Homo sapiens: one gene and its partners. The protein of the gene in region 7 purifies or fractionates together with the protein of the main gene of each other region. This does not show direct contact. Each region holds a gene or a part of one and is shown on either strand. Other genes may lie near its edges. The genes, in order: ASS1, BTG3, CNOT10, EML4, CNOT1, CNOT9 and PABPN1L.

Region 1 (3,500 bases), on a different chromosome or scaffold from region 7:
TTGCATTTAGGGGCTGTGAAATTGGAACCAGGCCCTGAACTAATTGAATTTCACGCTCCACCATTGTCTTACGCCGGGAGCACCTTCTGTCCCACCAGTCACCCGGGGGCCGCCTGGCCGAGGTGTGGCTGGGCTCAAGCACACACATACTCGCTCACACACACACACACACACACACAGCCCCCTGCCACGTCTGTCAGGCGGACCCCGCGCCCCGACCCTGTACCCCAGACCCACACGCAGCCATCTGATTGATGGGGGTGACACGGTGCCCGCTCCAGCAGGCGAGGTGTCGGCAGCGTCCCTGAATCCGAGGAGCTGGGTCCGGGGTGGCAGGAGGGAAGGGGTTGGGTGGGGGCAGTGGGTGGGTTCGGGGTTGACTTTGAATAGCAAGGGGCACTTTCTCGAGCGGTGTGAAATGAGCAATAAATGTATTGGGGCTAACAAGAGAGCTGAAACAGTGACAAAGAAAAGCTGTTCAAAGTTGGCGGCTAATCCCCCACCCATCTGCCCGGCTCATTACCATGGAGCGAGCCATCGGGTGCCAATCAGGCCTCAATAGCGGCTTTCGAGGCTTTATTAGCCAGGCGCCGCTTGGAGGGGCTTCACTCAAGGCGCTGTCAGCCTCGCCATTCTTAACCCCCATTTCCAGGGGTTTTATAACTTGGTTGTAAATTGCTATTAAATGTAAGTCTGCCCAATAATGAACCTTAAGCCCCTCTCACCACCCCCCGCCTCTCCTCTCTCCCTTTCTCTCCCTCCCCGGTCCTATTATCGGCCTTCGCTGGGGCCTTAGATGGGGCCTGCCCGGGAGAAGAGGTGACATTGTTGGTGCTGCTGCTGGAGAAAGCCTCTTAGCCTTTAAAATAGTTAATAATTAGATTAAAACTTCAAATAAATTAACTAGAGAGTGAATGGGCACTAGCCAGGGGAGGGTTCCTCCGGTCTTTTTTTCTTCTTCCAGACAGTCCCCAAATCATGACAATAGGTCACGTTTCTTCTCCAGCTCAGCCTGCGGAGCTGCCCTGGTCCTCGGGCAGGGCTGCCAGAGCCTGGTGCCCAGGACCCTCCGCAGCCTGCCACCCGCCTCCCACCCTCACGGCTCTCCAGGCTCCTGGGAGCCCTGTGCAGGGAGCCAGGAGGTGCTGCTGGGGCCACTCCCACCATCTTCTCAGAGATGATCCTAAAGGGAGGCTCTGTGCCTGCAAACAGGCCTGGGGGCCCGGCTGCCTTTGGGGTCCTCTTTGGCCCCCCAGTAGGTTGGGACAGATGAAGGGGAGCAAGGAAGACAGTCGCTGGCTTGGCCAAGCTCTTGGGAAAGGCCCAGAAGAGGCAGATTATTAAAGCACTTAGCCTCCGACACCCCATTCCACATACCATGCCGGGCACCTGTGAGCATCATGCCTGTGGTCCGTTTTTTGATGAGTGCACCCAAGGCCCAGCATGGTGAAGCTGGCTGTCAAGGTCACACCAGCAAGGGGGAGAGGGGGATCTGCAGCTCTGCCTCCCCACCGGCCTGAGGCTTCCCCACCCTATCCTCCTTTCTGTGGTAGCCGGGGTAAGAGCCGAGCGCCAGAGCCGGGCCAGGCCTCTCCACGAGCCTCTCTCCCTCTCATCCCAGCTCCAGTGTGGGCAGCCACTTTGTGGACGAATGGGCCAGCCCCCCGCCTGGTCCTTGGGTGCCCCTGTGCCCAGCACCACCTCCTCCAGGAAGCCTCCCTGATCACTCCAGCCTCCTGAAAAGGTACCCCTTCAGGCCCTCTGAGCCCGCCCTCTGAGCCCTCCCTCTGAGCCCAGGCGGGCATGCCTCGCTTCTCCATCCTTCCTCCAGGCCAAGAGATGCCCTCTCCCAAGCTCAGGCACCCAGGCACTCAGGCCAGGTCAGCAAACGCTTCTTGTTGACAGCAGTGAGAAGGAGGGAGCGATCAGGACAGCCTCCACTGCCGAGGGGAGCAAGAGTGGCCGCAGCTTTGAACGTGGGGTCAGCAGGGTGAGGCCCAGAGCGGCTCAATGAAGACTGGCGAAGGCTTTCCATGTGGGGTCCCAGGGGTCCATGAGGCCAGCTCGCCAACACTCACCGTTTACTGAGCACCTTCCGGGGTCAGGGCCCAGGGCTGGACGCTCCCTTGCAGGCCTCATTCTACCCCAGGAAAACAGCAGGCACTCTTTCATCCTCAGATACAGCTGAGGAAACTGAGGCCCAGGAAAGTTGAGTGGCTGTTCAGGGACTAGAGCGCTCTCATTCCAGACCTGGTGCCCATGAACCCGAGTGATGGGTAGCCGAGGGCATGTTCCTCCCAAGCCTAGAGGCATCCATGGTCCATGGGTTGTACTGTCCAGGGAGGTGGGCTGTGCGTTACCTTGAAGCCCCTGCCTGAACTCTAGCTTCCAGGAATGCAGGGCGGGGGTAAAGAGGGCCTAGGTTCCCAGGCAGGGAGGGGAAAGGAGCCAGGGCCCCAAAAGTCAACCCCCTTCGAGTCCCAACAGGTGGGCACATACCTTTTTTGAACTCGATCTCGAGAATGTCAGGGGTGTTGGGGGCTTTGGCTGGGTCCTGGGTCTTCGTGTAGAGACCTGGAGGCGCTTGGTTCTGAAAAAAGACAGAAAGTGGTGGGCAGATGACATACCAGTCCCTGGACACCCTACAGCCCACCTCCCGCGGGGATCTGCACCCCTCTCCTCTGTCCATTTCCCCACCAGCTGGTGGGGTCCGGCAGATCCCCCGGTCCCCAGCCCTCAGCCTAGCACCAGCCTCGCTTGCCAGAGGCCTGGGAAACAAAGGGCTGGAGAAATCAGACAATTTTTCCCCTCAACTTGATCTCATCTTTTTCTTCGACGCCCCCACAGCTGGAGGTAGAATAGCTGGAGAGGAACAAGTCAGGCAGGAAAAAGTGTGACTTTGGAGGAGCAAGGCGGCGTTCCGAGGGCTTCCCAGGAGCGGCACGCACGCTCTCGCCGGCTCGGGATTGGGGTTTATTCTGCACTGACCGCAAAGCTAATGACTGCCTGTGACCCCAGCAGGTGCTCTGGCAAGCCGAGCCGTCCCCAGGGTCCCCAAGGTTAATACTCACAGGGAGAAAAGAGAAGAGCAAAGCAAAAACCCATTTGAAAACACATCAACCTTTATGTATATTTTTTCTTGGGCGTGTTGGAAAATGGGCCTCTCGTCTGATGCAGTGGTGGAGGGGCTGCGTGTTGCCTGAAACTCTCGAAATTCCCTCCCACCTTCGGAGGCCCCAGCTCCCCCAGGCCGTGGCTTGGACATTTGCCACTGTGGGGACTGGGGCCTCTTGGGCCTGACTGCTCAGGTCCCTCCTGTGGGCATCCTGTGCCTGGGGTCCTTGTTCACCTGCTGACATCCAGGAACTGCTGTCTCATCTTTGCTTTAAAAACCTTGCAGACGGCTGGGCACAGTGGCTCACACCTGTAATCCTAGCACTTTGGGAGGCTGAGGTGGGTGGACTGCCTGAGCTCAGGAGTTCGACACCAGCCTGGGCAAC
Region 2 (2,749 bases), on a different chromosome or scaffold from region 7:
TCAAGTACCCTTACAAGACTGATGGAATTACAGTTGTATAAATATGGACTACTGAAGAATCTGAAGTATTGTATTATTTGACTTTATTTTAGGCCTCTAGTAAAGACTTAAATGTTTTTTAAAAAAAGCACAAGGCACAGAGATTAGAGCAGCTGTAAGAACACATCTACTTTATGCAATGGCATTAGACATGTAAGTCAGATGTCATGTCAAAATTAGTACGAGCCAAATTCTTTGTTAAAAAACCCTATGTATAGTGACACTGATAGTTAAAAGATGTTTTATTATATTTTCAATAACTACCACTAACAAATTTTTAACTTTTCATATGCATATTCTGATATGTGGTCTTTTAGGAAAAGTATGGTTAATAGTTGATTTTTCAAAGGAAATTTTAAAATTCTTACGTTCTGTTTAATGTTTTTGCTATTTAGTTAAATACATTGAAGGGAAATACCCGTTCTTTTCCCCTTTTATGCACACAACAGAAACACGCGTTGTCATGCCTCAAACTATTTTTTATTTGCAACTACATGATTTCACACAATTCTCTTAAACAACGACATAAAATAGATTTCCTTGTATATAAATAACTTACATACGCTCCATAAAGTAAATTCTCAAAGGTGCTAGAACAAATCGTCCACTTCTACAGTGTTCTCGTATCCAACAGAGTTGATGCACAATATATAAATACTCAAGTCCAATATTAAAAACTTAGGCACTTGACTAACTTTAATAAAATTTCTCAAACTATATCAATATCTAAAGTGCATATATTTTTTAAGAAAGATTATTCTCAATAACTTCTATAAAAATAAGTTTGATGGTTTGGCCCATCTAACTTCACTACTATTAGTAAGAACTTTTAACTTTTAATGTGTAGTAAGGTTTATTCTACCTTTTTCTCAACATGACACCAACACAATCAAAAACGAAGTTAGTGAGGTGCTAACATGTGAGGATTAATCCAGTGATTCCGGTCACAATGCATTCCAGGAGGAGGTACCCATGTCACTGGAATTGGGCGATATGGTTTATTTTTTCTTCCCTGATTTGGATAACCAAATGGAACAGGAGGAGGATAGTGATTCTGATGGCCATTCCCTCGATACATTCCTGGCTTTTTTCTGGGCAAAGGGTGCCACATTGGAAGAGGTGGAAATATAAGTTCTGAAATCTGTAGGGAAGAGAACACATTAAGTTAATTCAAAGGAAAAAATCATCATCTATGTTCCAGATTTCTCATTAAAGACAAACAAAGTTACCCACAACACTGAGATCACATCTAAGTGACACTCCTATTGTCAGGTCTAAATACATTAAAAACCTCATGTGTAATAGGCGTATAATGTATAACAGGTGACCAATGTTTTCTGAATGCATAAAGAAATGAATAAACTCAAACACAGTACTTCCTAAACAACTTCAACCAAAAAAGACCAAAACATGGAACGAATGGAAGCTTGTAAGGACATGCTTGTTTTAGTCCAGTGGTTTCCACAGCTGGCTAAGCCAGGAGTCACTTGGAGGCTTTTAAATACAAAACATTGGAGCTGGAGGCCATTATCCTTAGCAAACTAATGCAGAAACAGAAAATCAACTACCGCATGTTCTCACTTATAAGTGGGAGGTAATGATAAGAACTTATGAACACAAAGAAGGAAACAATAGACATTGGAGTCTATTTGAGAGGGGAGGGTGGGAGAAGGAAAAGGAGCAGAAAAGATAACTATTGAGTACTGGGCTTCACACCTGGGTGATGAAATAATATGTACAACAAATCCCTGTGACACATGTTTACCTATGGAACAAACCTTCATGTGTATCCCTAAACCTAAAATAAAAGTTAAAAAAAAAAAAAGATAAACACAAAACATTCATGCCCTAGCACTGGTCTAATGAACAATAATAAAATCTCAGAACTAGAGGCCAGGTATTTTGACAAAGCTCCCCAGGTGATTCTGATGTAGCCAGTTTAGTATTTGGGAATAATAGTTTTAGATTATCCCATAAATCAGGTGGGCACGTCAGGTTCACATTATTCAAAGTGTTCTTATCAGCAGTTTTAGACCTCTCTGCTTAGAATGCCACATCTTCTTAAATTTCTGATTTTGCTGATCTCAAATCTGCATTTCTAAGTATAGGATTTTTTTAAAAAAATTATATTGTGTATAGCATTGCATTCATGATAGAAAATTCAAAAAGTACAAAAGGGTAAACTGTGGAAAGTCCCTCTTTTTTTATCTCACCCTTTATCTTCTTTATCTTAACCCTTCTCAAGGGCAACTGACACCAAACATTTTTTTAAATATACCTTTAGAGATATTCTATCCACATCTATACACACTTTAAAAATATATATGTATACTGGATTGTATCCTGCTTTTTACATTTCATAATAATACATTTCAGAAACATATCAATACATAAAGATCCTTCTCATTTTTCTACAGCTAGATAGTATAGCAATGACTATAAATTAAATGGTCTCCTAGTAATGGGACATTGAGGCTGTTTTCAGTCTCTTACTATTAAAAAAACAATGATACACAACGAACAAAACAATGCTGCAATGAATAACAGCACAGTTAATTCTAATAGAAGGCTTTATAGGCATATTTTCGTTTCTTTTGGTAAATATTTAATACTTAGGAGTGGAACTGCTGAGTAATAGAAGAGTTACACATTTAACGTTAAAAAGTTCCAGTTTTCCAAAGTAGTGGTACTATTTTACATGACTAGCAAG
Region 3 (3,500 bases), on a different chromosome or scaffold from region 7:
CAGGTTCAAGCAATTCTCGTGCCTCAGCCTCCCAAGTAGCTGGGATTATAGGCATGAGCCATCACGCCCAGCCAACAGTGACTCTTGAGAGAACTATAAAAAGTATTGAAGCATTTGTTAGAGTACTTAACACACTTTTGCTCTGAGTAGTTTAGGTTTGGTTCAGCTGAGATTTTTACCTTTATTTTGGAATTCTATTTTCAAATTAAAACAAAAAGCAAAACATCTAATATTTAAAATAGCAAATTATAGAGGTAGGAGGTAGTTTTCCCAGCTAAACAGATTATTAACCTTTACTGTGAATTTATATGGACACTTAACATATTAAAGAAACTTTTTAAATGTGTTAATATTTTGGATTTCTGAGCCTATGAAAATATTCCTTGCCTGGAAATTAGCTGTAAGCCCTTATCAGTGTAGTTTTCTGATTGTTACTACTTTCCAACTAAATTATAAATCTCTTAAAGCCATCGTAGGTGTGTTTATATCTCCAGCACCTGCCATAGTTGCTTGAATATGTGGGACTGTATATTGCTGGGTGGCAGATCTAATATTTTTTAAAGAGCACAATATTCTCAGCTTGAATGTCCTCATCTACAGGGCTTGTGGTCTTTATTTAAGTGGGCAGGTTTTCATTGTGTTTCAACTTGGCCATAGGAACCTTTTCAAGCTTTCAGAGGAGTAGCTTCTTATTAGCTTATAACATTAATCAGTCATTGTTTTTTGTTGTTTTTTTTTTTTTGAGACGGAGTCCTACTCTGTCGCCCCGGCTGGAGTGCAGTGGCATTATCTTGGCTCACTGCAAGCTCCACCTCCCAGGTTCACGCCATTCTCCCGCCTCAGTCTCCCAAGTAGCTGGGACTACAGGCGCCCGCCACCACGCCAAGCTAATTTTTTTTTTTTTTTTTTTGTATTTTTAGTAGTGACGGGGTTTCACCGTGTTAGCCAGGATGGTCTCGATCTCCTGACCTTGTGATGTGCCCGCCTTGGCCTCCCAAAGTGCTGGGATTACAGGCGTGAGCCACCGTGCCTGGCAACATTAATCAGTTATTGTTGAGAGAGCCCTAACTTTGGCCACTTTATTAGGAAGAACACAAGATGAAAACTAGGGACAAATTCACTATACAGTAGTCCCCCACCTTTTCCTCAGAAGATACATTCAGGGTCCTCCGGTGGATACTTGAAACCACAGATAGTACTGAACCTATGTACTGCTTTTTTTAATACGTACATAACTATGATAAAGTTTATAAATGAGGCACAGTAAGAGATTAACAACAACAGTAATAAAATAACAGTTATCTGAATGTGGTTTCTCTTTCTCAAAATATCTTACTGTACCCTACTCACCTTTCTTCCTGTGACCTATTGATCTGATAACCAAGATGGCTACTGTGTGTCCAAGGGGGAGGTATCTTATACAACATGGAATGCTAGACAAAGGAATGATTGACTTCCTGGATGGGACAGAGCGGGACACTGCAGGATGGCAAGAGATTTCATCATGTTACTCAGAACATTGCTGTTTAAAACTTAAGAACTGCTTATTTCTGGAATTTTCCATCTGATATTTTCATACTTGACCTTGGGTAACTGAAACTGCAGAAAGTGAAACTGGATAAGGAGGGACCACTGTACAACTTTTATTTCTAAAGAACTGTAAAATTTGTGTGTTTGCAGATCAGGGAGCAGAGAAACATGAAGGCACAGGTCAGTCCTCTGGGATCACTGATCAAGAGAAGGAGTTATCCACCAATGCTTTCCAAGCTTTCACAGTAAGAAATGGCTTCTCTTAGTCTGCTCAAGTTGTAGGGTTCTGTCAAGTATGAATCTTTTCATAGTGAATTTTTAAATTTACAATTTTTACTCTGTAATAATTCAAAAGTTAATTTAGAGATAAGTAGGTTTAATTTTTAAAATAAATGTTTTAGAGTTTAAATATGGTGAAAGGAATGGGAATAATTGGAGCCATTCCCAAGTTTTTGTAAACATGTTTTAACTCATATACTGTTGTTTTTAAGTCTTTTAAATTTAGATTTGTAAGTATGTGGGTCAGTCTTTTCATTTCACTAAGCTGTTCAATTCTTTTATTTATTTATTTCTGAAAATATCAGATTCAAAAATTATTTTCTTGAAGGTACTTTAAAATGGAACCCCAAAACTTTATTGGCAGAATTTTAACTTTTTCTGGCATTAAACAATATGAAAGAAAACCTTATTTGGTTATCAGGTTACGTGCATGTAAGCAGAAGAACTTGATGCTTGGGTATTTAAAATATATTTACTAGAAAATAAAATTTGGAGTGATTATATTACCTTTCTTGACTAGCCTCAGCCATTAATACCCTGCTAGCACTATATGTATATGCCAGTATATTTATCATATCAATATATGTGTCTTATATGTGTCAATGTCAGGGTTTTGAGTCTTAGGAAGTAAATATCCACAGTTTAACTGACATGAATGTTGCTTTAGTGACTTTGATTAGTATATGTAGGGAAACTACATCTTTCTTTTTAAGAACTTTTAAGATAAAGATGAATGAAATATATTTGGAATGATATACTGTATTTAAAGCTGGTATGTAATTTTGTGTGTGTGTGTGTGGTTTTTTTTTTTTAGTCTGGAAATTATGATGCCTGTCTACAACACCTTGCCTGTCTACAAGATATAAACAAAGATGATTATAAAATAATTTTGAATACAGCAGTAGCTGAGTTTTTTAAAAGTAACCAAACAACAACAGATAATTTGAGACAAACACTTAACCAGCTGAAGAATCAGGTGATACATAAATGAATTTAACTATAAAAAATATTGTTCTGTTCTTTAATTTATGAAACACAAATAGTTAAGGAAAATAAATGTGATTTGTCTGGTATTTCTTGTCAGAAACATTTGTTAGCATTAATTTTATTTCCGTAAAATTATTATTCCAGGAGATAAAAGGTATGTTGTGGGATCATTTTTTTTAATTGGGGTTTTAATGAACTTGAACAGAATAGACTAATATACCAAATTTGAATGAGCTTTGGAGTTTTGAGAAAGAACTATATGAAGAAGCTTAGCTGTGGAGATATATCTTGTTTATAATGAAAAAAATATGATTAATCCTAATGTCAAGTCGTTTTAGCATTTGGATCAGGAGATGATTGATTAAATAGAAGATATTCTGCTTTGTATCTGGCTTGGGGCTTGAATTGGGGATTGGTCTGGTGATAATGGCAATGTTTCTTGAATCCTGGGGCTAGACTTTTGGTGTTCAAGAGGGCTGATAACAGTGATGGTGCTGATAGGATCAGCTAGCATATGTTAAGTGTTCACTGTGTGACAGGGCTCTGCCAAGCGCTTGTATGCAACTTCTCAGCTTGTTCTTCTCAGTAGCCCTATGAAATAGCTATATAATTTTTCTTATTTTAAAAGTGGAAAAGCCAAGGCACAGATAGCTGTGTAAATTGTCCAAAAACACAAAGTTTTTGAGTAGTAAGAGCTACATGAA
Region 4 (3,500 bases), on a different chromosome or scaffold from region 7:
CTGTGTTATGTGCATTTTATAAGATGTCTAATGGCAATTAAGACTAGGTAGTGGTTTTTTAAATCATAGGAATGATAAGTGATTGGCCATTTTATAAATGCCACATTGAAGTTACATGGTACTGATTATGTTATCTTTGTTTTACATAAAAAACAAGTGAAGAATTCTTTTAATCTCCGCAGCTGATGAATTTCAGGCAACTTGGCTGGCAGGTGCTTGTACTCTGGAATTTCCCTTAGGTATTATTAATATATCTTTTAATCCACAAATTATGGTAACTTAAGGCAGCACTTTAGAAACCTTTTTTTTTTTAAACTTAGGAGAGAAAAGTACTCAATTACCTTGATGTGTTGCCTCTAAATCACTACATATAGATACCCATGTGCAAAATGTATATACTGTATGTATATTAAATCTCAGGTCTATGTGCAAAAGTGGGAAGCTATTCATACAGCTTTTACCGATTTTTTATAAGGCAGGGATTGGGTGCATTTCATGCTTAATCTTTTTAGAATCTCTTTCATAATAGAGGTTTAATTTTAAGACTTTTATCTTGGAATTAACCTAGAGATTAGTCTGTTTTCACTTGAAAGAAACCTTATACCTAACCAGTCAGCTTTAAATTTTTCTGCCTCAAAAGTTAAACAACAAAACTTAAAATCTTCTTCCCCCTAAGAAAAATCATAGTGAATGAAATTGTTGGATTAGGATCTATAAGAAACAACATTCTGGGTACAGGTTGTAAATGTGAACAAGTATAGCAGTATGCTTCAACTTATGGACTATTCAGAAATTAGTCTTTTTAACATCACATTGTTAGAACTGTGATTTCTCATCACAGATAATAGTCTTGCTTTCTTAAAGGAACAATGCTGTATATGATTTTCACATATTAATCTAAAGCATTCCTTATTTACATGAAAATGTTTTTCATGTAATATTTGGAGAGGTTTTTTTTTTAAACTTTTTTTATTGGTTGCCTCTTGAAGAGTTCAAGATAGACTCAAGTTGTGTAACCAGACATGAGTAGTAACTCTTAAATGGTTAGTAGAGCATCTTCAACATGAGTTAGCTAGAGTGTTTTTCAACATATGTATGGATTAACATCGAACATGGGCTAGCACTATGCTTGGTGGTTCTTATGGGAAAGACAAGTAAAAGACATGCTTTTTGCCCTTTAGGAGCTTACTGCCTGGTTTTTAAATAAGTACCATGACTAGGTGCAGTGGCTCACGCCTGTAGTCCCAGCACTTTGGGAGGCTGAGGTGGAAGGATCGATTGAGCCCAGTAGTTTGAGACCAGCCTGGGCAACATAGCAAGACCCTGTCTCTGCAAAAAAAACAAAAATAGGCATAGTGGCATGTGCCTGTAACCCCAGCTACTTGGGAGGCTGAGGCAGGAGGATCACTTGAGCACAGGAGTTGAAGGTTGCAGTGAGCTATGATTGTACCACTGCACTCCACTGGGCCACAGAGCAAACCTCTGCCTCTAAAAAATAAATAAATAAATAAAGTATGTACTGTATGTAGAGATGTTTATTATTAAGCCTAAGTACCAGAAATGGGGATGAAGGGAGGAAGCACCATTTAGAATGCTGTGCTATGTTTCAAGCAAGTAACTTCTGAGAGAACATTTGTTGATTGCTAGATTTATCTCTGCAGAGCTTGGCTTTTTAAAACAATGAAATAATTTAGCAGTTTAAATTCTAGGGAGTCTTTTTCTGTCTTATGTGTAAGTTGGAATAACATGTAGCAAAATACTGTATTTTGTATGTGGGAGTCCATTTCTGTAACATGTAAAACTTCAATATTCATAAGAAATTTTAGAAAAATATTTTGATTTTTAAAATAGATTCTAATACTTGTAAAAAGTTTAGGGAAAGAATCTACTTCATCTAGTATTACCTCAGTGTGGAAGATTCCCAAATCTATAGTATATTTCTTTGTGTGTGTGTGTCTGACGGAGTCTTGCTCTGTCTCCCAGGCTGGAGTACAATGGCACGATCTCAGCTCACTGCAACCTCTGCCTCCTGGGTTCAAGCGATTCTCCTGCCTCAGCCTCCTGAGTAGCTGGGATTACAGTTGTGTACCACCACACCTGGCTAATTTTTGTATTTTTAGTAGAGACAGGTTTTCACTATGTTGGCCAGGCTGGTCTCAAACCCCTGACCTCGGGTGATGGCCACGCACCTTGGCCTCCCAAAGTTCTGGGATTACAGGTGTGAGCCACTGTGCCTGACCCTGTAGTATATTTGTATGTCGGTATATGATCTCTTGTCCTTTAGCTGTCTTAGGCTTTTATAATACCTTAATTTTGCATGCTGTATATGATTTTTAAATATTATTTTAAAGCATTCCTTATTTACAGTTTACAAAGAGCTTTTATCTCATTTAATTTGCATACTAACCTTGGGAGATAAATTATTATACTTTTATAGGTGAAAAAGGTCTAGAAAGTGGTTTTTTTTTGTTTGTTTGTTTTTTGAGACAGAGTCTTGCTCTGTTGCCCAGGCTGGAGTGCAATGGCGCGATCTCGGCTCACTGCAGCCTCCGCCTCCCGGGTTTAGGCAGTTATCTGCCTCAGCCTCCCTAGTAGCTGGGATTACAGGTGCCCGCCAGCATGTCTGGCTAATTTTTGTATTTTTAGTAGAGACGGGGTTTCACCATCTTGGCCAGGCTGGTCTTGAACTCCTGACCTTGTGTGATCCACCCACCTTGGCCTCCCTTACAGGTGTGAGCCACCGTGCCTGGCCGTGTTTTTGTTTGTTTGTTTGTTTTTGAGACGGAGTCTTGCTCTATTGCCCAGGCTGGAGTGCAGTGGCACCATGTTGGCTCACTGCAGCCTCTGCCTCCCGTGTTCAAGCTATTCTCCTGCCTCAAGCCTCCCGAGTAGCTGGGACTACAGGCACTCACCACCACACCTGGCTAATTTTTTGTATTTTTAGTAGAGATGGGGTTTCACTGTGTTAGCCAGGATGGTTGTGATCGCCTGACCTTGTTATTCGCCTGCCTCGGCCTTCCAAAGTGCTGGCATTACAGACGTGAGCCACCGCACCTGGCCAAGAGTGTGTTATTTTTTTAAAAGGTTAAGTCCAGGTTTTTTCTTTTTTTGTATGGTTGGGAGTGTTTGTATCTATATTATTTTTATTTTATTTTATTTTGTTTTTTTGAGACAGAGTTTCTGTCGCCCAGGCTGGAGTACAGTGGCACAGTCTTGGCTCACTGCAACTTCTGCCTCCTGGATTCAAGCGATTCTTGTGCCTCAGCCTCCCGAGTAGCTGAGATGACAGGTGTGCACCACCGCACCCAGCTAATTTTTGTATTTTTAATAGAGAAGAGGTTTTGCCATATTGGCCAAGCTGGTCTTGAACTGCTGTCCTCAAGTGATCCATCCACCTCAGCCTCCCAAAGTGCTGGGATTAGAGGTGTGAGTCACCATGCCCAGCATCATATTATTTTTAAATAAAACACCATAGAAAGGAAAGAAGAATAGAAAAATAA
Region 5 (3,500 bases), about 30 Mb from region 7:
AGAAAACTCTATCCAAATAAAAGGTTGGGGGTAAAGAAAGATCTCCCTAATTAATTCAAGAAATTGCCAAGATGTAAATAGTTTAACTCTGTAGATTACTAGAGATAGTCATGATATTCTAAAATCCAATGCACAAATGAAACTAAAATCCTGACCTACATAATGAACCACCACCGATAGATCTTTTCCTCTGAAATGTTACTTGCTCATTCAAGCAGTATGAAAAAAAGAAAAACCAGAGTATCGATTTCCAAGAATGCTATATTCTATCAATTTACCCAACTGTAATAAATGAAGCACTATTCAATTACAGTTCAACTGTATATATGCACTGGGGAAAGAGACTCCTTACTCACTATGGGACAGAAAACTTAAAAGGCATTGTAGGGTGCACTTAAGTGAAACTGGCCAAGGATGGCAAAAAATCAATTTTGCTTAAGGAAATTAGGTATTTATAGACAGTACACCTGAGTTTGGACTAGAATGATAAAGTTTTGGTAGAGATGACATTCCAGATGTAAAAAGACGAAGAGGCTGGGTGCGGTGGCTCAAACCTGTAATCCCAACACTTTGGGAGGCCGAGGTGGGCAGATCACCTGAGGTCAGGGGTTCAGGACCAGCCTGGCCAACATGAGGAAACCCCATCTCTACTAAAAATGCAAAAATTAGCCGGGCGTGGTGTGGCAGGCACCTGTAATCCCAGCTACTCGGCGGGGATAAGGCAGGAGAATCGCTTGAACCCGGAAGGAGGTGGTTGTATTGCAGTGAGCCAAGCTCGCGACACTACATTCCAGCCTGGGTGACACAGCGAAGACTCTGTCTCATTTAAAAAAAAAAAAAAAAAAAAAAAAGAGGACAAAGATATATTTGGGTACCACTGCTTAACAGTCTTTTGACTATAATACAACACAGTAGTACCACAGGGAAGGAGGAATCAACACTTATAATTCCAGATGAAGGTATTAGAATGACTTCTGAACAAAGAAAGGATATTTCCAAAGCAATGATTTAAGTGGCATTTTGGCAGAAATATAAAAAATTAACTGCAGTCCTAGAATCTTTTACAATCACAATATCCACATATTATTTGTGAAATAAACCCAAAAACCAATGATAAAGAAACTATAATGGAGATTAGTTAGAAAGTTATTTCAAAAAAGACAAGAGCCTGAAACTAGACAAAAAGATAACTTTTTTTTTTTCTTTTTTTTGAGACAGAGTCTGTCACCCAGGCTGGAGTGCAATGATCACAGCCCACTGCAGCCTCGACCTCCCCAGGCTCAGGTGATCCTCCCACCTCAAGTTTTGTATTTTTAGCAGAGATGGGGTTTCATCATATTGCCCAGGGTGGTCTGAAACTCCTCGGCTTAAGTGATTTGTACACCTCTGCCTCCCAAAAGTGTTAGGATTGCAGGCGTGAGCCACTGCGCTGGCCCAGCTAACTATTCTTTCTTTTTCTTTTTTGAGACAGAGTTTTGCTCTTGTTGCCTAGGCTGGAGTGCAATGGTGCAATCTCGGCTCACCGCAACCTCCACCTCCCAGGGTCCAGCGATTCTCCTGCCTCAGCCTCCCAAGTAGCTGAGATTACAGGCACGCGCCACCACGCCCAACTAATTTTGTATTTTCAGTGGATACGGGGTTTCTCCATGTTGGTCAAGCTGGTCTCAAACTCCCGACCTCAGGTGATCCGCCCGCCTCGGCCTCCCAAAGTGCTAGGATTACAGGCATGAGCCACCACGCCTGGCAACTATTCTTGTTAGCAAAACCAGGCCTTATAGTTTGTCCAAATCCACAGAATATACACCACCATGGCCGGGCATGGTGGCTCACACCTGTAATCCCAGCACTTTGGGAGGCCGAGGCGGGCAGATCACGAGGTCAGGAGATCGAGACCATCCTGGCTAACACGGTGAAACCCCGTCTCTACCAAAAAATACAAAAAACAAATTAGCCGGGTGCCTGTAGTCCCAGCTATTCAGGAGGCTGAGGCAGGAGAATGGCATGAACCCGGGAGGCGGAGCTTGCAGTGAGCCGACATCGCACCACTGCACTCCAGCCTGGGCGACGGAAAGAGACTCCGTCTCAAAAAAAAAAAAAAAAAAAAAAAAGAAGATACACCACCAAGAGTGAATTCTAATGTAAACCAGAGAATTTGGATGATGATGATCTATCAGCGTAGATTCATCAATTGTAAGAAATGTACAGGCTGGGCTCGGTGGCTCACACCTGTAATCCCAGCACTTTGGGAGGCCGAGGCGGGTGGATCACGAGGTCAGGAGATCGAGACCATCCTGGCTAACACGGTGAAACCCCGTCTCTACTAAAAAACTATAAAAAATTAGCCAGGCGTGGTGGTGGGCGCCTGTAGTCCCAGTTACTAGGGATGCTGAGGCAGGAGAATGGCGTGAACCCGGGTAGCACAGCTTGCAGTGAGCCGAGATGGCGCCACTGCACTCCAGCCTGGGTGACAGAGCGAGACTGTATCTCAAAAAATGTACCACTCTAGTGGGGGGGGGGGGGGGGGCGGGCGTGGACAATGGGCAAGGCAAAGCATGTATTGGGGCAGGAGATAATACAGGAAACCTCTGTACTTTCTCATCAATTTTACTGTGATCCCAAAACTGCTCTAAAAAATAAAATCAATTAAGAAAAAAACGCAAAACCTAGAAGCTATAAATCTAAGGGAACAAACGTTTAATTATCTGACTCGGAAACTGCTGAGTTCTGAATATAAAGCTTAAGAATATTATAGGCTCACGCCTATAATCCCAACACTTTGGGAGGCTGAGGTGGGTGGATCACCTGAGGTCAGGAGTTTGAGACCAGCCTGGCGAACATGGTGAAACCCTGTCTCTACTAAAAATACAAAAATTAGCCAGATGTGGTGGTGGGCACCTATAATCCCACCTACTCGGGAGGCTGAGGCAGGATCGTCTCTTGAAACCTGGAGGCAGAGGTTGCAGTGAGCTGAGATCGCACCACTGCACTCTAACCCAGGCGCCAAGAGTGAAACTCTTGACCCAAAAAAAAAAAAAAGAAAGAAAGAAAAAGAAAAAAGAATGTTAGATAGCGTCTTTGAAAATCCTTTTGGCTGGGTGCAGTGGCTCACGCCTGAAATCCCAGCACTTAGGGAGGCCAAGGCAGGCAGATCACCTGAGGTCAGGAGTTCGAGACCAGCCTGACCAATATGGCAAAACCCCGTCTCTACTAAAAATACAAAAATTAGCCAAGCGTGGTGGCAGGCGCCTGTAATCCCAGCTACTCAGGAGGCTGAGGCAGGAGAATCGCTTGAACCCAGGAAGGAGAGGTTGCAGTGAGCCGATATCGCGCTCCAGCCTGGGGGATACAGCGAGACTCTGCCTCCAAAAAAAAAAAGAAAAGAAAATACTTCCATCCCACTTTTATATTTCAAATAATTACTTCAACATTACTGTAATATTTATTGTGAGATATACATTTGGTCTTCATCCCATTTCCTGGCATACAACTTCTAAGATCCT
Region 6 (3,500 bases), on a different chromosome or scaffold from region 7:
TGTCTCAGACAAACTAAATGCAGTTATATCCCCACTTCCCTGTCCTAAAGACACAGGAGCTATGCCATGAGATTAGGAAACTGTTCAGCAGAGTATTTCCCTAAAGTCCTATACATCCTATAAATGTTTACCTGGGGTTATCTGAAAGTCGAAGGTAACATCTCACTACATGCTTCAGCAGACGGGCAGAAGGCTCTTTGGATAGCTGCAGGACCATCTTACCCTGTTTCCCCCAAAATAAGGGGAGGGGTTGGAAAAAACACACAAAACACAAACAAATTCTAATTGACATCAGAGATCAGATAGTCCAAGAATCATAAAAGGTTCCAAAATTGTTAGTTCTAGTCAGAGGACTGAAGTTGTTCAATGCCAGTTATAAAGAGATTAAGCTTTGTGATGAGAAGTAGTTGTAAAGGGGATAGATGAAAGAACTCACCAAGATCATGGCAACATGGGAGAAACGCTCATACGTCTGACATATATAAGCCAAACCAGTGTCATCTAACAAGATCTTCTGGAGGATGAATGTGGCAACCTGAAGCAAAACAAAATCGAAGAGTTTATAAAGTTGCTCAGATTTAATCTTCTCATTTTCTACTCATTTTCCCAGGCATGACTATCAGTCAGAAAATTGAGCAAGCAGGGATCCTTGTATATTATGTACAACTTTATCATATATGTATAGTACAAAGAATAATAAATATTACCATGTTGAACATTACTTTGTACCAGTTTTTTTTTCTAGAGGCTTTACATGCTTATCTTATTTTTATAATAAATCAATGAGGTAGGTACCATTATTATTCTCACTTTACATACAAGGGTAGGTTCCGTGTAATTATCAAATTCTTAAAAACTCAGAGACCTTCTCATTTACAGAGTACCTACTATGTGCCCGGTATAACTGTTAATCAATAATGCACCAGGTTAAGGTCCCAAGTGACAAAGTTACTATGGCACAGCTGAGATCCAAGCCTCATTTGAATATCTAAGGCTCTTCTCTTTTCCATAGGCCAAGATGATTTATTCAGCTATGCCTCCTCTCTTCCAGATGAAGTAAGGCCTTTCTTTCTTTTTTCTTTTCTTTTTTTTTTTTTAGATGGAGTCTCACTCTGTCGCCCAGACTGGAGTGCAGTGGCTCCATTTCAGCTCACTGCAACCTCTGCCACCCTGGTTCAACTGATTCTCCTGCCTCAGCCTCCCGAGTAGCTAGGATTACAGGCTCCTGCCACCATGCCTGGCTAATTTTGGTATTTTTAGTAGAGACGGGGTTTCACCGTCTTGGCTAGGCTGGGCTTGAATTCCCTGACCTCGTGATCCACCTGCCTTGGCCTACCAAAGTGCTGGGATTACAAGCGTGAGCCACTGCACTCGGCTGAGATAAGGCCTTTTTTGTTCTTAAAAGATCTTGAAGAAATAAGATTTTCACGCTTCTCTTTGAAGATTATCTAACAGTAATAAAACATATCCTGGCTGTGAAGCTTATATGTGGCCTCAATTTTTCCCTCAACTTGAGCTCATTAGCTCTTACATAAAAGAGATATTAAAATATTAGTTTAATTTAAATTAGACAATCACGATAATGATACTCTTTCTTGGCTGCTCATCAAAATGAACTGTGGAATTATTTTACTATTTTATTGGGGTTATAACACTGTAGTAGGCTGAATAATGGCTCTCAAAGATATCCAGGCCCTAATCACCAAACTCTGCAAATGTTACCTTAAATGAAAAATGGGACTTTGCAGACGTGATTAAGTTAAGGATCTTGAGATGGGGGATTATCCCTGTTTATCCAAGTAGGCCTTAAATGTAATAACGAAGTGTCCTTAAAAGCGATGTAGAGAAGGCCAGGCAAAGTGACCCATGCTGGTAATCTCAGCACTCTGGGAGGCCAAGGTGGGAGGACTGCTTGAGGCCAGGAGTTCAAGGATGCAGTGAGTTATGATCATGCCACTGCACTCCAGCCTGGGCGACAGAGAAAACCCCATCTCTTAAAACAAACAAACAAACAAAACAACAACAACAACAACAACAACAAGAGAGATGTAGGGAGAGATTTTACCACAAAGGAGAAAGCAATGTGACAAGCAGAAAGAGATTTGAACATGCCACATCGCTGGATCTGAAGAGGGAGGGGGCCATAATCCAGGGAATGCAAGAAATGCAGTTCTAGAAGCTAGAAAAGGCAACAAAAAGACTCTCCTCTATATCCTCCAGAGAAAGCATGACCCTCCTGATACATTGACTTTAGATTGGTGAAACTCATTTAGAACTTGTGACTTCCAAAACTATAAAACAGTAAACTTCCATTGTTTTAAGCCACTACCCTTCTAGCTTGTGGTAATTTGTTATAGCAGCAGGTTATATAGGAACCTAATATAAACTTACACACAGTGAAGTGTGTTAAGTGCACTAATCTTAAGTGTACCTTGAATTTTTACCTATGTACACATTATGTACTATAACCAGATTAAAATACAAAATATTGTATAAAATACAGAATATTTGGGAGGTGGAGGCAGGCAGATTGCCTGAGCTTAGGAGTTCAAGACTAGCATGGGCTACATGGCGAAACTCCATCTCTACTAAAAATACAAAAAATTAGCTGGGTATGATGGTGTGTGCCTGTAGTTCCAACTACTCAGGAGGCTGAGGCATGAGAATTGCTTGAACCCAGGAGGCAGAGGTTGCAATGAGCCGAGATCACTCCACTTCACTCCAGCCTGGGTGACAGAGTGAGACTGTCTCAAAAACAAAAAACAACAACAACAAAAAAAAAAACAGAAAAAAGCAATATTTCTACCAACTCAGGATTCCAGCATTCCCTTGTACCTTTCCCCAGTCAATGTTCTTTCCTCAGAGCTAACCACGAATCCAACTTATTGCCAGTAATTGGCTTTGCTTGTTCTTAAACTTCACATAATCAACATACAGTATGAATTCCCATGTGTCTGGCTTCTTTTGCTCAACAATGCCTTTGACAGTCATCCATATATTGAATATTTAAAATAAAAAGCTTAAAAATAGCCAGGTATAGGGATGTGTGCCAGTATCAAAGCTACCTACTCCAGAGAGGGAAGTGGGAAGACTGCTTGAGCCCCGGAGTTCAAGGCTATAGTGTGCCATTATCATGGCTGTGAATAGCCACTGCATTCCAGCCTGGGCAACATAGTGAAACCTTGTCTCTTTAAAAACAATAAATTGGTCAGGCACAGTGGCTCATGCTTGTACTCCTAGTACTACGGCAGAAGGCAGGAAGATCCTTTGAGCCCAGGAGTTCAAGAGTAGCCCAGGCAACATAGGGAGACCTTGTCTTTACAAAAAATAAAAATAATTAGCTGAGTGTGGTGGAGCAGGCATGTGGTCCCAGCTACTTGTGAAGCTGAGGTGGGAGGATCAACTGAACCTAGGAGGTCGAGGCGGCAGTGAGCCATGCCTCTCTACTCCAGCCTGGGTGACAGACAGAGATCCTGTCTCTAAATAAATAAATAATTTAA
Region 7 (4,190 bases):
CGGGGGACAACAGGATAAGGATGCAGGGAGGTCACCTGGCTGCTCAGGCAATGCCCCAGGGGCCTTTCTGGTGACTCCCAGCTGCTCTCTTGGGAGGGTCCCACGAAAAGGAAAGGCAGTGCCAGGAGAGCCCCTTGGGGCAGCTGTAGCCCACCCTGGGGCCTTTGTGGGAACAAGAAGGGGTCACCTCTCCCAGCAGAGAGGCTACAAAAAGCGCCCCCCCCACCAGCTGATGCAGCAGCCACAGCCCTCACCCAGGCCCCGCCAGGTACATTCCTGCAGCCCCATGAGGAACGAGCTCAGGGACCCCCTCCTGCCCCTGATGCCCTCCACCATGGCCCTCGCCCCCAGGCTGCCCCCACAGGCACCCACTCACCGGTTCTGCCCTTGTGGTCTGAGCCGGGGCCTGCCCTGGAGGCCGCTGTGGGGGAAGGGTGCCCCCCTGGAGCCTGGGTGTCCTCGAAGGCCCCCGCGGTCTGTGGAGCTGATCCCAGGGAAGTTGGTTCTTTTCGGCAGCACCTGGAGCAAAGGCCTGTTTTGAGTCCTCCTCAAGGAGCAGCCGAGACCCAGCTCACAGCCCCCGCAGCCCCCACCACCCCGGAGCATGGGGTCCTGCCCGGCTCAGGATACCATTCGGGCCTACAGGGTTCCCTGCCTTTGCCTACCATAGCTGTCATATGACACCCCGTCACGGCCAGCACCCCTGCAGAGGGGGGGGTCACGGCCAGCACCCCTGCAGAGGGGGGGGTCACGGCCAGCACCCCTGCAGAGGGGGCTCCCGCCCGAGAGGGGACACTTCCCCACCATGCCACTGGCAGACCAAACCCAGCTTCAGGTCCGAGGGTCCCGCCACATCCTGTCCAGGCCCAGCCAAGCACCGTGCCTGAGACACGCTGTGCAGAGAGGAGCCAGCTGGGGCTGCTGTGTGTCCCAGGGCCAGTGGGCCAGCCCCTCTGCGCTCATGTTCCTGGACCTGGGGAGCACCGGCGCACCTTGATGACCCGGCCCCGGAAGAGGCTCTGGTCCAGCTCCACGGCGGCCTGCACGGAGCCCTTGGTGGCAAACTCTATGTAGGCATAACTGAGGGGAGGGGCAGGGAGGGGAGGGGTGAGGCTGGGCCCTGTCCGCATGGCCAGTGCCCCCACCAGGCCCCACACTGACCCCTTGGGGTGTCCAGAGAACTTGTCACACAGGATCGTGACTCGGTGGACCTCCCCACAGCGGCTGAAGTGGGCCTCCAGCTCCTCGGCGGAGCCCCCGTAGTCCACCTGCACCCAGGCCCAGACCAGCATGTGAGGGAGACGCCTGGCCCTGACTCGGGGCCTTCTTGTTAGAGGTGAGGAAAGAAACCCCAAGGCTGGGCCCCGTGGCGGGGATGGCCCCAGGCCTCCACCCCACACCCCCGCTGGGGTTGGAGGGAAGAGAGGAAAGGATATCTCGTATGGAGCGCTTCCTTCTGGAGAGCTGGAGCCTTTTAAAAAGCTTCTCAAAAGTGGAGATTTCATGTGCAACCCCGAATTCCAGCTCATGTTGAAAAACTGGAATATGTGCCCAGGCCAGTGTTTCCTCAAGGTGACGGGGCTGCCCCCAGGGTCAGACCCCCTTCCCAGCAAGGCTGCCTGGCCCATGGCCGGGCGCCAGACCCTCTGGTAGAGATGGGGCCCCATTCGCTGCCTGCCCCTTCACCCCGCCCACCACTCACGTTGCCCACGTAGACGGATCTGTGGTCAGCCTCCACCTTCTCCTCGGGGGTCCCAGAGAGGGGGCAGCCTGCGGAGAACACAGCTCAGGCCCGCAGGCCCTTGGTTCCTTCCTCACTCCTCTCACGGGGAAGGTCGCCCAGGCTTATAGGGGAGGTGACACCTTGGAGCCTGCCAGGCCCAACCTTAATGGAAACTGTGGGACCCTTGCTCAGTGGGGGGCGGCCTGTGCCCTTGGTTCCTACCCACGGTCTCAGGGCTCAGCAGCTGCCCGGCCGCGGTGCCCTCCTCTTCCTCGGCCTGTTGCTGCACTCCTGGAGGCCGTGGCGTCCCCTCGGCCTGCTCCATGGCACACACCTTCATCTTGATGGCCTCCAGCTCCTGCCGACACACGGCCCTGAGCCGGGCAGGCAGCCTGCAGGCTCTGCTCAAGGAAGGTGGGTGTGTGGCCTGCCAGCTCCAGCAGAGGGTCACAGCCCCAAGGGGCAGCCCTTCTCTGGACAGGGACACTCCTTCCTGGGGCAGCTGGCTGGGGATGAACTCGCCCCTGCAGAGAAGCCCCCGAAACCGCACCTCAAGGGCCCTTCCCCAGGCGAGAGAGGCCACCTTGACCCTGCAGTCTGTGTGGCTGGGGGCGGGGGGTCTCCTTGCCACCTTCGTCCAGGCAGGTGGGCAATGGCCCTCTCCCCTCCTAAGTCAGCTGCAGCCATCCGTCACCCAGACCCCGTGTCTCCACCAGCCCCTGTGCCCCAGGTCCCCTGAGATCCCCAGGGCCTCCACACAGCTGTTACCTGGTCAGGCAATGGGCACTCAGCCAGGTTCTCTTGCTCCAGCAGAGACAGCAGAAAGCCTGCATCCCCATCCTGGTCTTCCTCTGCATCCTCTTCCTCCTCTTTCTCCTCCTTCCCTTCCCCACCCTCTGGCCCCAGAATCTCCTTGGTCTCGTTCCAGGCCCCCCAGCCCTGGGCCTCAGGGTCTGAGGAGACCGTCTGGAGCCAGGCCTGAGTCGGGGGTGGGAAGAGAGAGCGGCTCGGGAAGGGCCACATGGTAGAGGGGCAGGAGGAAGGTGGGCCAGGCGAGGCCTCCCCTCCACTCCCCTCGCGTCCGCACCTGCCCAGGCTCTCCTGGAGTTTTAAGCCCTCCCCTGAGGCCAGCTGCTCCCACTAGAGCATTTGCAAAGGCTGAGTGGGGCTGAGCTTCCAGCCTTGGCTCCCGGCCCCGCCCCTTCCCTGTCACTCGGACAGGTACCTCCAGGACACTCTCCCTGGAGGAAGGAGAGGCTGAGTTGAGTGGGGGTCACCGGTCTCTTCTGCTTCCGCCTGGCCACGCTGTGGCTCACTGGAGCCTTGGTCTGTGACAGGGTTCACACCTCAGCAGCATCCACACGGCACGAACGCCACACTGCATGAACACTCGATCTAAGTGGGAACACGGGAGTGGTTTCTTCTAGTACCAGGGACCAAGCAGGCTGGAGAGGTGGCTTCCGACCAGGAGAGGCAGGGCCTGAGCAGAGACCGAGAGCAGGTGCATGGGATGAGAGGGCCGAGGCAGGTTGGGGCGGGGTCCTGGGCCCAGAGGAGGGGCAGCAACAGCTGTCTCTGCATCCTGACCCCCATGGAGTCCCCAGGGACCCTTGCCTCCCTAACCCTTATTCTGGGCCTTTTTTTTTTTTTTCTTTTTTTTTTAGGCAGGAGTCTTGCTTTGTTGCCAAGTCTGGAGTGCGGTGGCGCGATCTCGGCTCACGGCAACCTTTGCCTCCCAGGTTCGGGTGATTCTCCTGCCTCAGCCTCCTGAGTAGCTGGGATTACAGGCACCTGCCACCATGCCCAGCTAATTTTTTTTGTCTTTTTAGTAGAGACAGGGTTTCACCATGTTGCCCAGGCTGGTCTCGAACTCCTGACCTCAGGTGATCCGCCCGACTCGGCCTCCCGAAGTGCTGGGATTACAGGCGTGAGCACCGCACCTGGTCTGGGTCATCTTTTAGGTGGGAGCCACTTCCATGAGGCCAGAATTATTCTGCTGTGGGGCGGGGGCTCCGTGGGGAGTGACGGCGTGAGTTATTGTGGGGCGGGGTCTCCGTGGGGAGTGACGGCGTGAGTTACTGTGGCGGAATTCAGTGGGCATCCGGTGGTGTCTGCACCTGGCTTCACCCATGCAGGGTTGCAGCAGGAGGTGACCCGTGTCCGCCCTTGCGCCTCCCTCTGCACCTGCCACCGCGGCTGCTGGAGTCTGCTCTGGCCTTCATCTCCAGTGCTGCCGTCTCCCACCCACTCTGTGAAGGACTCGGGGCCAGGGGGTCATGCATGGCTCTTACCCCTGCCATTGGTGGTGGGAGACGGGGCCCCCTGCACAGCTCCTACCCCCAGGCCGAGGCCATCCTCTCTGTGACTGCACCCCGGTGTTTAGCCAGTGGGGCTGGGATTCCTGGGAATTTGGGACTGGGGGAGGAGAGAGAGACAGGGCGTGGCCTAGGCTGGAGCTGCACTGCTG

What was found.
Region 1: the proteins of PABPN1L (region 7) and ASS1 purify together in Homo sapiens (affinity purification with mass spectrometry; one large-scale study listed by BioGRID and IntAct). This does not show direct contact.
Region 2: the proteins of PABPN1L (region 7) and BTG3 purify together in Homo sapiens (affinity purification with mass spectrometry; one large-scale study listed by BioGRID and IntAct). This does not show direct contact.
Region 3: the proteins of PABPN1L (region 7) and CNOT10 purify together in Homo sapiens (affinity purification with mass spectrometry; one large-scale study listed by BioGRID and IntAct). This does not show direct contact.
Region 4: the proteins of PABPN1L (region 7) and EML4 purify together in Homo sapiens (affinity purification with mass spectrometry; one large-scale study listed by BioGRID and IntAct). This does not show direct contact.
Region 5: the proteins of PABPN1L (region 7) and CNOT1 purify together in Homo sapiens (affinity purification with mass spectrometry; one large-scale study listed by BioGRID and IntAct). This does not show direct contact.
Region 6: the proteins of PABPN1L (region 7) and CNOT9 purify together in Homo sapiens (affinity purification with mass spectrometry; one large-scale study listed by BioGRID and IntAct). This does not show direct contact.

What each region holds. Positions count from the first base shown.
Region 1 is NC_000009.12:130,475,961-130,479,460, reverse strand, and holds part of ASS1 (argininosuccinate synthase), read right to left. Parts: intron 2,591-3,500; coding exon 2,500-2,590; intron 1-2,499. UniProt on the Homo sapiens protein: One of the enzymes of the urea cycle, the metabolic pathway transforming neurotoxic amonia produced by protein catabolism into inocuous urea in the liver of ureotelic animals.
Region 2 is NC_000021.9:17,593,153-17,595,901, forward strand, and holds the end of BTG3 (protein BTG3), read right to left. Parts: intron 1,181-2,749; coding exon 941-1,180; 3' UTR 501-940; downstream 1-500. UniProt on the Homo sapiens protein: Overexpression impairs serum-induced cell cycle progression from the G0/G1 to S phase.
Region 3 is NC_000003.12:32,702,188-32,705,687, forward strand, and holds part of CNOT10 (CCR4-NOT transcription complex subunit 10), read left to right. Parts: intron 1-1,680; coding exon 1,681-1,775; intron 1,776-2,623; coding exon 2,624-2,785; intron 2,786-3,500. UniProt on the Homo sapiens protein: Component of the CCR4-NOT complex which is one of the major cellular mRNA deadenylases and is linked to various cellular processes including bulk mRNA degradation, miRNA-mediated repression, translational repression during translational initiation and general transcription regulation.
Region 4 is NC_000002.12:42,172,353-42,175,852, forward strand, and holds part of EML4 (echinoderm microtubule-associated protein-like 4), read left to right. Parts: intron 1-3,500. UniProt on the Homo sapiens protein: Essential for the formation and stability of microtubules (MTs). Required for the organization of the mitotic spindle and for the proper attachment of kinetochores to MTs. Promotes the recruitment of NUDC to the mitotic spindle for mitotic progression.
Region 5 is NC_000016.10:58,619,827-58,623,326, forward strand, and holds part of CNOT1 (CCR4-NOT transcription complex subunit 1), read right to left. Parts: intron 1-3,500.
Region 6 is NC_000002.12:218,589,339-218,592,838, reverse strand, and holds part of CNOT9 (CCR4-NOT transcription complex subunit 9), read right to left. Parts: intron 536-3,500; coding exon 437-535; intron 224-436; coding exon 132-223; intron 1-131. UniProt on the Homo sapiens protein: Component of the CCR4-NOT complex which is one of the major cellular mRNA deadenylases and is linked to various cellular processes including bulk mRNA degradation, miRNA-mediated repression, translational repression during translational initiation and general transcription regulation.
Region 7 is NC_000016.10:88,863,861-88,868,050, forward strand, and holds the start of PABPN1L (embryonic polyadenylate-binding protein 2), read right to left. Parts: upstream 2,801-4,190; 5' UTR 2,747-2,800; coding exon 2,492-2,746; intron 2,082-2,491; coding exon 1,946-2,081; intron 1,771-1,945; coding exon 1,703-1,770; intron 1,269-1,702; coding exon 1,162-1,268; intron 1,081-1,161; coding exon 993-1,080; intron 520-992; coding exon 377-519; intron 1-376. UniProt on the Homo sapiens protein: Binds the poly(A) tail of mRNA.